Regions from separate parts of the Homo sapiens genome. Here region 1 is linked to region 2. A link means that fine-mapping ties the variant in region 2 to the expression of a gene that starts in the linked region. Tissue or cell type: monocytes after Pam3CSK4. Region 2 holds a variant in brackets; the other region holds the start of a gene. All regions are shown on one strand. Distances are from middle to middle. Region 1 holds the start of CHRAC1 (chromatin accessibility complex subunit 1). Region 2 holds the start of AGO2 (argonaute RISC catalytic component 2).

Region 1 (5,360 bases), 130 kb after region 2:
AGTATCAAAATTGGCGGAGAAGCAGGCATTTTCCAGAGGCTTATTTTAGATGTCTAACTTACGAAAAAGATGAATCGTAACTGTTTAATGACCAACCTCTAGAGTAAAAGAAAGAAGCGGCCGGGAGCTGTGGCTCAGGCCTGTAATCCCAGCACTTTGGGAGGCCAAGGACGGCGGACCAAGGATGGTCAGGAGATCGAGACCATCCTGGCTAACACGGTGAAACCCCGTCTCTACTAAAAATAAAATAAAAAAAAAAAACAAAATTAGCCGGGCATGGTGGCGGCTGTAGTCCCAGCTACTCGGGAGGCTGAGGCAGGAGAATGGCGTAAGCCCGGGAGGCGGAGCTTGCAGTGAGCCGAGATCGCGCCACTGCACTCCAGCCTGGGCGACAGAGCGAGACTCCGTCTCAAAAAAAAAGAAAAAAAAATAGAAAGTAGCAAAAAGCCATTCAAAAATTCTATTTGGCTCAGGAATACCTTTTTAGTCTTCTATTTGCATACACTGTTTCTAAGGTGGTTCACCTACAACTATAGTGACCACAGCTTACATTTTGCCAAAACTTTTCTATTCTAGGAACTGACATACAACCCTCAGACCTAATGAAACAACCGGAACTGATCTTCTCCCTCCTGCATCCCAGTTCTTATAGCAGGGCCAAGTCTTCATTTTTACAGAGGCTGAACTGAGCCTCTTTCTCAAGGTTTTGACTTTAATGCATCTAGTTCAGTTAATAAGGGATGAGAAAGACGGGCGTGATGGTTCACGCCTGTAATCCCAGCACTTTGGGAGGCTGAGGCAGACGGATCACCTGAGGTCAGGAGTTCAAGACCAACTTGGGCAACATGGTGAAACCCTGTCTCTACCAAAAAATACAAAAATTAGCCGAGTGTGATGGCAGGCACCTGTAATCCCAGCTACTCAGGAGGCTGAGGCAGGAGAATCATCTGAACCCGCGAGGCAGAGGTTGCAGTGAGCAAGACAGTGCCACCGCACTCCAGCCTGGGAAACTCCATCTCAAAAAATAAAATAACGGGTCAGAAGTGCCTGCATAAATCCTCATTCCTTAATACCAATAGAATGAAATTGTATAGGAAAATACAAATGTCCCCAGATGAAATGCTGAATATGCAATTATTTCCCTGGGCTCTAGGAAAACATGGCTCTGACATAAAGCGGGCAAGAAACCTGTAATTTCCCACTTCCCTTAGTTCTAGTCCAACACTGCAGGGACATCATATACTTAACTACAAGTAGGGACTGGAAAATAGAATCCAAGACAAGCTAAAGCATTTAACTGTGTAGCTGAAACATGGCCCAGTGTCAGAACAGGAAAACATCTGGCCTAACACTATCGAGACGCAATTTTTTTAAAAAAAGACAAAATTATCTATTTTGCACCCAGGAGGATGCTAAGCAGGCTGTAAAACTTAAGTTCCCCGGACTTCCTTAAATTCTGGTTGGGGAATGTGCTGCCTCTTAGACGAGGGGCCCCAGCTGTGGCGGGCGGGAGGGCTCGAAAGCCTCGGACCGCTGGAGCTGGCACCGCACGCGCGGGAAAAGAGCCTCGAGTCGCGGGTGAAGCGCCCGGCTGCCCCTCCCACGGGACACTGGAGGAGTTAGGGCCCTCAAAGCACGAAGCAGTCCAGTGACAAGAAAAAGGCAGGCCGGGAGTAGGGAGTCGCGGGTGAAAGAGCCCCCAAAGAACCCAAATGAGAAGAGCGCCACTAGGCGCCGACGCCCACGGGTAGGGCCGGAAACTGAGCGCCGCACGCGAGGGAGGACGTGAGCGCACAGGTGGGAGGGACGAAAGGCGCGCAGAGGAACGCGGGAGCTTACGGGTTTGCCGAATGGAAGCGCGAGAGAAACGGCGGGAGGACAGTGGGGTGGGCGGGGCGAAGGTGCGCACGGAAGGAAGGGGCGGGCGGAGCGAAGGAAGGCGACAAAGGGCGGGAGAGGCGCGCGGTAGGCGAGGCGAAGAAACTGGAGAACGTGAGGGAGCGGCGAGGGGTGGGCGGGGCGAAGACGCGCGAGAAAGTGTGGGGGCGCGCGGGCACCGAAGCGCGCGCCGGCGTGGGACGGGGACAGCGGGGCGCGCGCGAGCCCGGCAAGAGCAGCCGGCGGCGCGCGGGCCTAAGGGGACTGGGCAGTGCCCAGAGCCCGGCGGGGCGGGGCGCGAGGGGTAAGGGCGGCCCACACCCCCGCCCTGCCCCCTCACCGTGGCCTTGGCCGTGAGCACCAACGCCTCCTGGTTGATGCTGGACACCTCGGGGGAGCTCTTCATGATGACCCGGATGCGGGATAGAGGCAGCGAGATGAGCCGCTGCTCCCCGCCCTTGTCTTTACCCACGACCACGTCCGCCATCTTCCCGCCCGTCGCGCGGGTGCCCGCAGCCGGCGGGCCCGACCGCGAAGTGGCTGCCCTGCCCGGCCAGCTGGTGGGTACGGGGAGCCGCGCCCGCTGCCCCGTGGGAGTTGTAGTGTGGGGAGGCGAGGCCGCGAGGCCGGGAGCGGCCCGTCCGGGAAACTACGAGCTCCGTGAGGCCTCGCGCCCCCGATCTGCGCATGCGCCGACGCTCGGACACCGCCCCCGAGTGCGAGGCCCGGCGCGGAACCGGCAGCCGAGAGCCTGGCGGGGGCGGGGCGCACCGCGCCGCTCCCGGGAGTCTCCGGGCTGCGGTCGCGGAATACGACTTTGATCCGCGGGTGAGGGCTCTGTGAATGGGCAAGCAAAGCCCTCTGACTCCGGGCCTCGTGGCTGGGTGCTGTGTGTTAAGCGCCTGCGCTGTACTAGGACCGGGCGTGCCGCCGTCGGCAAAAAGTGACGCTTTCTTGAAGCACAAAGTCCAGGGGGGACGACCAAGCGGACAGCGGATGCGTCCTGCGCCGGTAGCCAGGCGACCGGTGGAAGAGCAGAGTCCAGCGCGGGCGATGCGGCGGGGCCAGGCTTGCTGCGCCGCGGGGTGATTGGGAGAAGAGCCTTCCTGCGGGGTGGAGGACGAAGAGCTGCCCTGAGGAGGTCCCGGAGTCTGGTGGGAACGGCCTCTTCGGGACTGCTCCGAGAGACGGTGTGCAGAGCCTGGCGTGCTCGCCGAGGTCTGACAGGCAGCCCGGGGCTAGGTCCTGTTGGATTTTTTTTTCTAAGGAAAATGGGAAGTGGTGGTAGGGTTTGAGCAGTGGAGTCCCGGGCAGTTTTAAAAGGATCCCTGCAGCTGCCGGCTGGGAGGGCGTGGGTGCGCGTAAGGCCGGAATCACAGAGACCAGGTAGAAGATGATTACGAGAACCCAGGAACGTGGCCCTCAGGAGGCCGGCAGTACCAAGGGGACAGCAGCTGGGAGGAGAGAGGCAGGAGATGGTCAGGGGCCAGACCAGGGAAGGCCGCGGAGACCGCAGAATTCGCTCTGAATGAGTGGGGAGGCCCTTGGAAGAGTAAGGGGTCCAACTTAACTTTTTTTTTTTTTTTTTTTTTTGACACAGAGTCTCGCTCTGTCGCCAGGCTGGAGTGCAGTGCGATCTCGGCTCACTGCAACCTCCAACACCCCGATTCAAGCAATTCTCCTGCCTCAGCCTCCTGAGTAGCTGGGATTATAGGCACGCGCCACCCAGCTAATTTTTTGTATTTTTAGTAGAGACGGGTTTTCACCATGTTGGCCAGGATGGTCTCGATCTCCTGACCTCGTGATCCGCCCGCCTCGGCCTACCAGAGTGCTGCGATTACAGGCGTAAGCCACCGCGCCTGGCCACCAACTTAACTTCTGCCAGGATCATGGGAAGTGGTAGGGTTTGGGGTCTGATTTCAAGAGGGAGCTGCTGTGGAGTATCAGCACAGCTTACTGAGATATCAGAAAGGCCTTGGTAAAGAGCCCTTTACTGAGACAGGGAGCACATTTTGGCAGAGGTTTGAATTGGAGCGTGTTAAGTGTAGTGTCTTCTTCACCACTGTGACGTGAGGTCCTGGCGCAAATAATTGAGCACAGAAATACATGTCAGGCATTGCTAGGCACAAGGGTACAGCCAGTGAGCAGGGCTGCCATGGTCCCTGCCCTCTTAGAGCTGACCTTCAGGTCTGAGGGAGACTGAAAAATAAGTAAGAATACCTCCAGCCGGGCGCTTTGGCTCACGCCTGTAATCCCAGCACTTTGGGAGGCCAAGGTGGGTGGATCACCTGAGGTCAAGAGTTCGAGACCAGCCCAACCAATATAGTCAAACCCCATCTCTACTGAAATTATTAAAATTAGCTGGGCGTGGTGGTGGGCACCTGTAATGCCAGCTACTCGGGAGGCTGAGGCAGGAGAATCGCTGGAACCCAGGAGGCAGAGGTTACAGTGATCCGGGATCGCGCCACTGCACTCCAGCAGCCTGGGCGACAGAGGGAGACTCCATCTCAAAAAAAAAAAAAAAAAAAAAATACACCTCCAATGCTGAAAGCTACGAAGGAAACAAAACCATGTGCGAGTGATAGGGCAGCCCCTCTGGGAAGTGACATTTGTGCCCAGATCTGAAGAAAGAAAAGGAGCCACTCATACAGAAAGACTGAGACAAGATGAGCTTTCGGGACAAGTCAGGCTCTAGGGAGAACACCTGACGAGGAAAATGCCTGGGCAGTTTGAGGAACTGAAAAGCCAGTGTGTCTGGAGCTTAGTGAGGGAGGCAGAGAGCACGGGAGGTGTGGTTACCAAGGTAGGTGGGACCGGCTCTGGCCCTGGGTAAAAAGTTTGACTTTCATTCCAAGAGTAATGGAAAATAATGAAGAATTTTGAACTCGAGGTGGTGCATGCCTGTAATCCCAGCACTTTGGGAGGCTGAAGCAGGCAGATCGCTTGAGCCCAGGAGTTTGAGATTAGCCCGGGCAGCATAACAGGGCAGCATCTCTACAAAAATTTTATTTTTGGCCGGGCGCGGTGGCTCACACCTGTAATCCCAGCACTTTGGGAGGCCGAGGGGGGGCAGATCTCCTGAGGTCAGGAGTTCGAGACCAGCCTGACCAACATGGCGAAACCCCGTCTCTACTAAAAATACAAAAAATTAGCCGGGCATGGTGGCACGCGCCTGTAATCCCAGCTACTTAGGAGGCTGAGGCAGGAGAATCGCTTGAACCCGGGAGGCGGAGGTTGCAGTGAGCCAAGATCACGCCACTTGCACTCCAGCCTGGGCAACAAGAGAGAAACTCCATCTCAAAAACAAACAAATCCAGACCAGCCTGGCTAACATGGCAAAACCCCCTCTCTACTAAAAATAGAAAAATTGGCTGGGCATGGTGGTAAGCACCTGTAATCTCAGCTGCATTGGCGGCTGAGGCAGGAGAATCACTTGAACTCAGAAGGTGGAGGTTGCAGTGAGCACAGATCACACCACTGCA
Region 2 (5,360 bases):
GTCCTCCAGGTTGGAGTGCAGTGGCACAATCTCGGCTCACTGCGACCTCCGCCTCCCAGGTTCAAGTGATTCTCCTGCCTCAGCCTCCCGAGTAGCTGGGACTACAGGCGCGTGCCACCACAACCAGCTAATTTTTTGTATTTTTAGTAGAGACAGGGTTTCACCGTGTTAGCCAGGATGGTCTCTATCTCCTGACCTCGTGATCCACCTGCCTTGGCCTCCCAAAGTGCTAGGATTACAGGCGTGAGCCACCTGCTTAGTTTTTAATTAAAAAACAAAACAAAACAAAAAACCAGTCTGGGCATAGTGTCTCACACTTGTAGTCCCAGCACTTTGGGGGCTGAGGCTGGTGGATCACTTGAGCCCAGGAATTTGAAACCAGCCTGGACAATATGGTGAAACATCATCTCTACAAAGATTAGCTGAGCCTGGTGGGATACTCTTGTAGTCCTAGTAACTTGGGAGGCTGAGGTAGGAGGATTATTTAAGTCCAGGAGGCTGCAGTGAGCTATGATTGCACCACTGCACTCCAGCATGGGCAATAGAGTGAGACCCTGTCTAGAAAAATACAAAAACAAAAAAAATAAGGTCAGGTGTAGTGGCTCATGCCTGTAATCCCAGCACTTTGAGGAGGCCAAGGTGGGAGGATCACTTGGGCCAAGCAGTTCAAGACCAACCTGAGCAACACAGTGAGACCTGTCTCTACAAAAGTTTTTAAAAATTAGCCAGGCATGGTGGCATGCACCTGTGGTCCCAGCTGCTCAGGAGGCTGAGGTGGGAGGATCACTTGAGCCTGGGAAGTCAAGGCTGCAATGAGCTGTGTTTTCGCCACTACACTTTCACTTTGGTGATCCTGTCTCAAAGTATATATTACTCAAAGAATCATAGACTATTAGAGCTGGAAGGGATCATAGAAGACCTCTACCTCTGTGTTTCCTAAATTATGCTCCACGGAACCTTGAGGTACCTCGTGAAAAAAGGGTTCTGTGGCTAAATGGGTTTGGGACAGGTTGCATACTGTCTCATGCCCTCCTTCCTCTTTGTAGAAGCATGATTCTTCTCACCTTGCTACAGGCTCTGAGAAGGCCTGCAGACAATAAACTTATTTATCATTGTTTGATCCAGTGCTTCCCAATTTACTTGACTTCCCAAAGCTGCTTTAATCATGTGCAGAACATGTTTTAGGAACAAATGATTTATTCCATTGCCTGCATTTTAGTCTTGAAGAAACAAAGTGCCCCCAAAGCCGAGGGCTTTGTCAGCCCTGTGGCCTCAGGAGCTTTCTCTGTACTTCCCCTCACCCCTTCTTTCTCTCTCATGGGGAGCTGGTGCTTTAGACTGAGTGCACCCAGTGTGCAGAGCTGCAGGCCAGGCTGCTGCAAATGTCCCTGGCTGTGATTAGAGCCCACGGTCTTATCAAAGCATCAGGATCCTAAAACACAGAGGAAGGAATTGTATCAGGGAGAAGCACTGGGTCCAGAAGACCCAGAGTCGGCTGAGTCACCATCCGGGTGTGGGACGTGGGTCTGGGGGACAGAGCAGCAAGGGCTGGAGACATGTCACAGCAAGCACCGAGACGCACAGTCAGATGAGTTAAGCAGGTTCACTAATGGCAGGAGAGGTAACAGGCAGAGGGGACTGCAGTTCTCAGCTCCGTTGGGTGGTGGATCTGTTAGCCATGCTGAGTGAGGGACACCAGAAGAAAAGCAGGTTGGGAGGAGGGTAGGGATGGGGCTGCAGGAAGCGGGCTGAATTCCTGAACACAGGTGTGGAGGGTAGAGACCTGCAGAGAATGGGCTTATCTAGGAAAAGAGCAGAGGGAACCCCGTGCCCCAGAGGGCGAACCCAGTGACTGCATGGGCCCTGGGGATAGAGATGGGGCAGGCAGCAATGGCACCCCTCCGCCAGCAGAGGGCCACGGTGTCCGCCATCCAAAGAGAAGTGACACAATGAAGCCCTCAGAGACATTATCTTGCCTTCTGGAACGAAATCCTTGCAACAAAGTTCCCCAACACAGCGCTCAAAGGAGCTGAAGGCGGGCTGAGGGCAGCCAGTGATGACAGAGCCTTCTGGGCCTTTGCTGAGGCGTGCAGTCGCTGACAGCAGGGCAGTTGGGCCTCAGGGATTTCGGGCCAAAACGAGTTTTGGGGATATGTGAAGGAGACAGGGGCAGAGAGAGAGGGTGGGCATCTGCGAACTGGGAAGATTGATGAGGTTGCATGGTTCATAAATAGGAAAGTGGTAACATTCATGATTATTTAAAAATTTCC[G/T]TGAAATACTACAGTAAAGGTACAGAAAAGCATATAAAGTAAAAGTGCAGTTTAAGGGATGGCTGCCAAAGGGCACCATTGCAGGAAGGAACAGGCCTGGCACCCCCAAATCCCCCAGGGGCCCTGCTGTGGTCACAGCCCTCTCACCCCCAGCTGTATCCACCATTCTGACACTTAGAGTAAGCACCTTCTTGCCCTTCTGTCAATTATTTACTACTTAATGATGCTTCCCTAAAGAATGCAGTTTAATTTTGCCTGTTTTGGAATTTTTGTGAATGGCTAGATTCCATCCTGTGAATATGAGCACACTGTTTCTCCATCCTGCTCTCCGTGGGTATTCAGTGCCATGCAGTCCAAGCGGTGATGAAGAATGCCATGCACACTCCTACCCAGGTTTCCTGGTGTTCATTACTACACATTTCAGGAGCACGTTTTGTATCGGCAACTTGGTGAAGACTGATGTCCTTTTGAGTTTTCGGAGGAAGTGCTGGTTCTCCTGCCCTTCTTCAGGGCTGTCCTCCGAGACTGCAGAGAACTAGTGACCACCCTGCTGGCTGCGGAGCTCCTGTCAGTCAGAACTCCTGTTTATTCTCCGCCCGGAACAGGGCCTTGCACCCATATGCAGACAGCCGATGCCACGGGGTGAAGGAATGCTCCGGGAAATCTGGGAAAAGGCGACCAGGCACTTTAGATTGTGGGTCAACCTCTGCCTTCTAATCCTCCATCACTTAGGGGAGAAAGGAGGTAGCCACAGGCTGGCTTTTCCAGGAAAGCCTCCGAAAACCAGACGGACCCAGAGGGACCGGACAGAAACGCTCGGAGGTGCACGACGGTCCGAGCAGGCCCCTGACTGCTGGAATGGGCGTGTCCGCTGATCTGATCCCTGATACCAGCTACAGTTTACTAAAAACTTCTTAGATTTTCTCAGTGCTTTAAACGGATTATCTGGGTTCTGGGGCCGCGCCGGGAGGTGGCGGTGTGGTCCTGCGCGAGCGGCCGGCCGCGTTCAAGTTCAAGCTCCGGGCTGGGAGGGAGCTTCCCGACCTCCGTGTTTCTGTAGTAACTTAAAGAGCCAGGCTGGGGGCCGAGGGGCTGAGGGTGGGAGGGTTCTGCGCCCCCCACCGGGGGGCGGCGGGGAAAGCGGGGGCGCGTGGCCTCCCCTCCGGCTCCGGCGGCACAGCCGGGGGGCCCGGCTCCTCCCCGTCGGGAAGACGCGGCTTCTCTGGGTGGCAGTGAAGGGTCCCCGGGGCCGCGCCCGCCCCCGCGCCACACGGGCCGCGCCGCCCTCGGCCCTCGTCCCCGCTCCCGCCCGCGGTTCCCACCGCCCGGCGAGGTCTCCGGGCCCCTCCCCGGGTCCCCGCCCCAGGCCCCGCCAGACCCGGCGCCGCCGCCGCCGCCGCCGCGGACCCCGCCCGCGCGCCCAGCCCCGCTCCCCCCGCGAGCGCGCTCCCGCCGCCGGCCTCGCCTCCCCTCCCCCTCCCTCCTCCTTCCTCCCCCGCCCCTCCCGCTCCCGCTCCCGCCGCCGCCTCCGCCCGCCGCCCCGGCCGCGTCGGGTAAACCTGTTTGGCGAGGCGGCCGCGCCGGGGCGGATCGTGCGGCCGGCGGCTCCCTCGCGGCTCGCGGCGTCGGGGCCCGTGGCGCGCGCGCGGCCGCCCCTCGGCCCCGGAGCCCCTCGGCGGCGCCACCATGTACTCGGGAGCCGGCCCCGGTGAGTCCTGGCGCTCGGGGCGCCCGCCCGGCCGTTCGCGCGCTCCTGCCCGTGGTTGGCGGGCCCGGCGCGGGCGGCAGGGGCCGGGGATCGGGGGGCCGCGGGGTCGGGGCGGCGGGGGCCGGGGGCGGGCGAGCCGGGGCCGCGCTTGGGGGCTCGAGGAGCGGCGGCGGCGGGGCCGAGCCGGCCGTTTTCTCGGCCCCGCGTTGGACGCGCAGCCCCGGCCTCCTCGGCCCCCGCGAGTCGTCGGGGCGCCCCGCGCGGCCTGGGCCCCTCCCGCGCCTCGGGCCCGCGTCCCAGCGTCCTCGCATCCCCCGCCCGGGGCCCGCGGGCTGGGGCCGGGGCCGAGGCGGCCGCCGCGTGTAGGCCCGAGGCCCGGAGCGCCCCGCTTGGCCCGGCCTCGCTGCCCGGGCGGGGATGGGGGCGCCGCAGCCCGGCCCGGCCTGACCCTGAGCGCCTGAGCGGGTGGAGGCCGGGTCGGGGCGCCCGGCTCGGGGCGCGCACGGGCGGGAGGGGAGGGGGCTGCGCCGGTCCCGACCCCAGCCGCGGTGAGTCTGTGGCGCGCTCCGTTGTGGCCCTTCTTGTTGCCGGCACTTCTTCGGCCCCTTTTCCCAAGGAAAGTCTGGAAATGCTGAATTTTGGCCAATTCCTGTAGTTAGGGCTGTCGCCTGGAAAGGGGAGGACGCGGCTCCCCGGAACCCTCAAACTGCGTGCGCGGCTCGTTCTCATTCCAGACACGCCGGCCTCCCCATTCAAGTGCTAATTCCTTTTACAATTTCCTAGGAGAGGTGAGGCGAGGTGGATTCCTGTAGCACCCCTTGTTGCTAGTCGGCCTTTCTCTGGAAAAGTTCTAAAAAACTTAAAGCGGTAACGCGTTGTTTTTCTTTTTAAATGCAGAGTAGAAGGCGGTCTCCTTGGTGGGCCAAAAAAACGGTCAGGTGTTCTCCTGCTTTTGGCGTGCTCCCACCGGGCACGTGGCTCCTGGCTCTCTCGGCCGGCCTGGCCGCTGGGACGGGGCACCGCCTGCTCCCCTTTGTCCGCTGGGCCCCAGCCGGGCCGCAGGCGGCGCAGGCCCCGCCGGGCTCTGGGCTTATGTTTACCCGGCCGGGCGAGGAGGCTCGCATTCCCGATGCTGCCCTCGTTGCTGCAGACCGGCCCCAAATTGTGGGGTCCGGAAGGCCCCCTGGCCCACCTTGGTCCGTTGATGGTGGCCCCCACTGCTGGAGCTGTTGGCTCTGTGCCTTGCGAATGTCGCGTCTTTTTTCTGATGTCATTTAGAAAGCTTCAACAAGGCGGAGTCTGACCAACTTTTCAACCCCTGAGGGCCATCAGCAGTTTGAAGAATGATTTTCCCCCTCCACCTGGGAGGGGCCGCAGTCCTG

Evidence for each region. PIP is the estimated chance that this variant, and not a neighbour inherited with it, causes the effect.
Region 1: CHRAC1 starts here. The variant in region 2 is fine-mapped to the expression of CHRAC1 in monocytes after Pam3CSK4 (Quach 2016, PIP 0.92).

What each region holds. Positions count from the first base shown.
Region 1 is chr8:140,508,505-140,513,864 of GRCh38, reverse strand. CHRAC1 (chromatin accessibility complex subunit 1) reads right to left here and starts at 2,543. Exons shown (of 3, transcript NM_017444.6): 1 at 2,219-2,543. The coding sequence starts at 2,365. RefSeq lists enhancers at 1,481-1,790, 2,851-3,060, 3,071-3,150 and silencers at 1,831-2,840, 5,018-5,198.
Region 2 is chr8:140,634,103-140,639,462 of GRCh38, reverse strand. AGO2 (argonaute RISC catalytic component 2) reads left to right here and starts at 3,830. Exons shown (of 19, transcript NM_012154.5): 1 at 3,830-3,978. The coding sequence starts at 3,957. ERICD (E2F1-regulated inhibitor of cell death) reads right to left here and starts at 5,228. Exons shown (of 1, transcript NR_170171.1): 1 at 1,180-5,228. RefSeq lists silencers at 3,266-3,665, 4,316-4,485, 4,969-5,018 and an enhancer at 4,825-5,360. The variant G/T (reference allele first, on the strand shown) is at 2,271.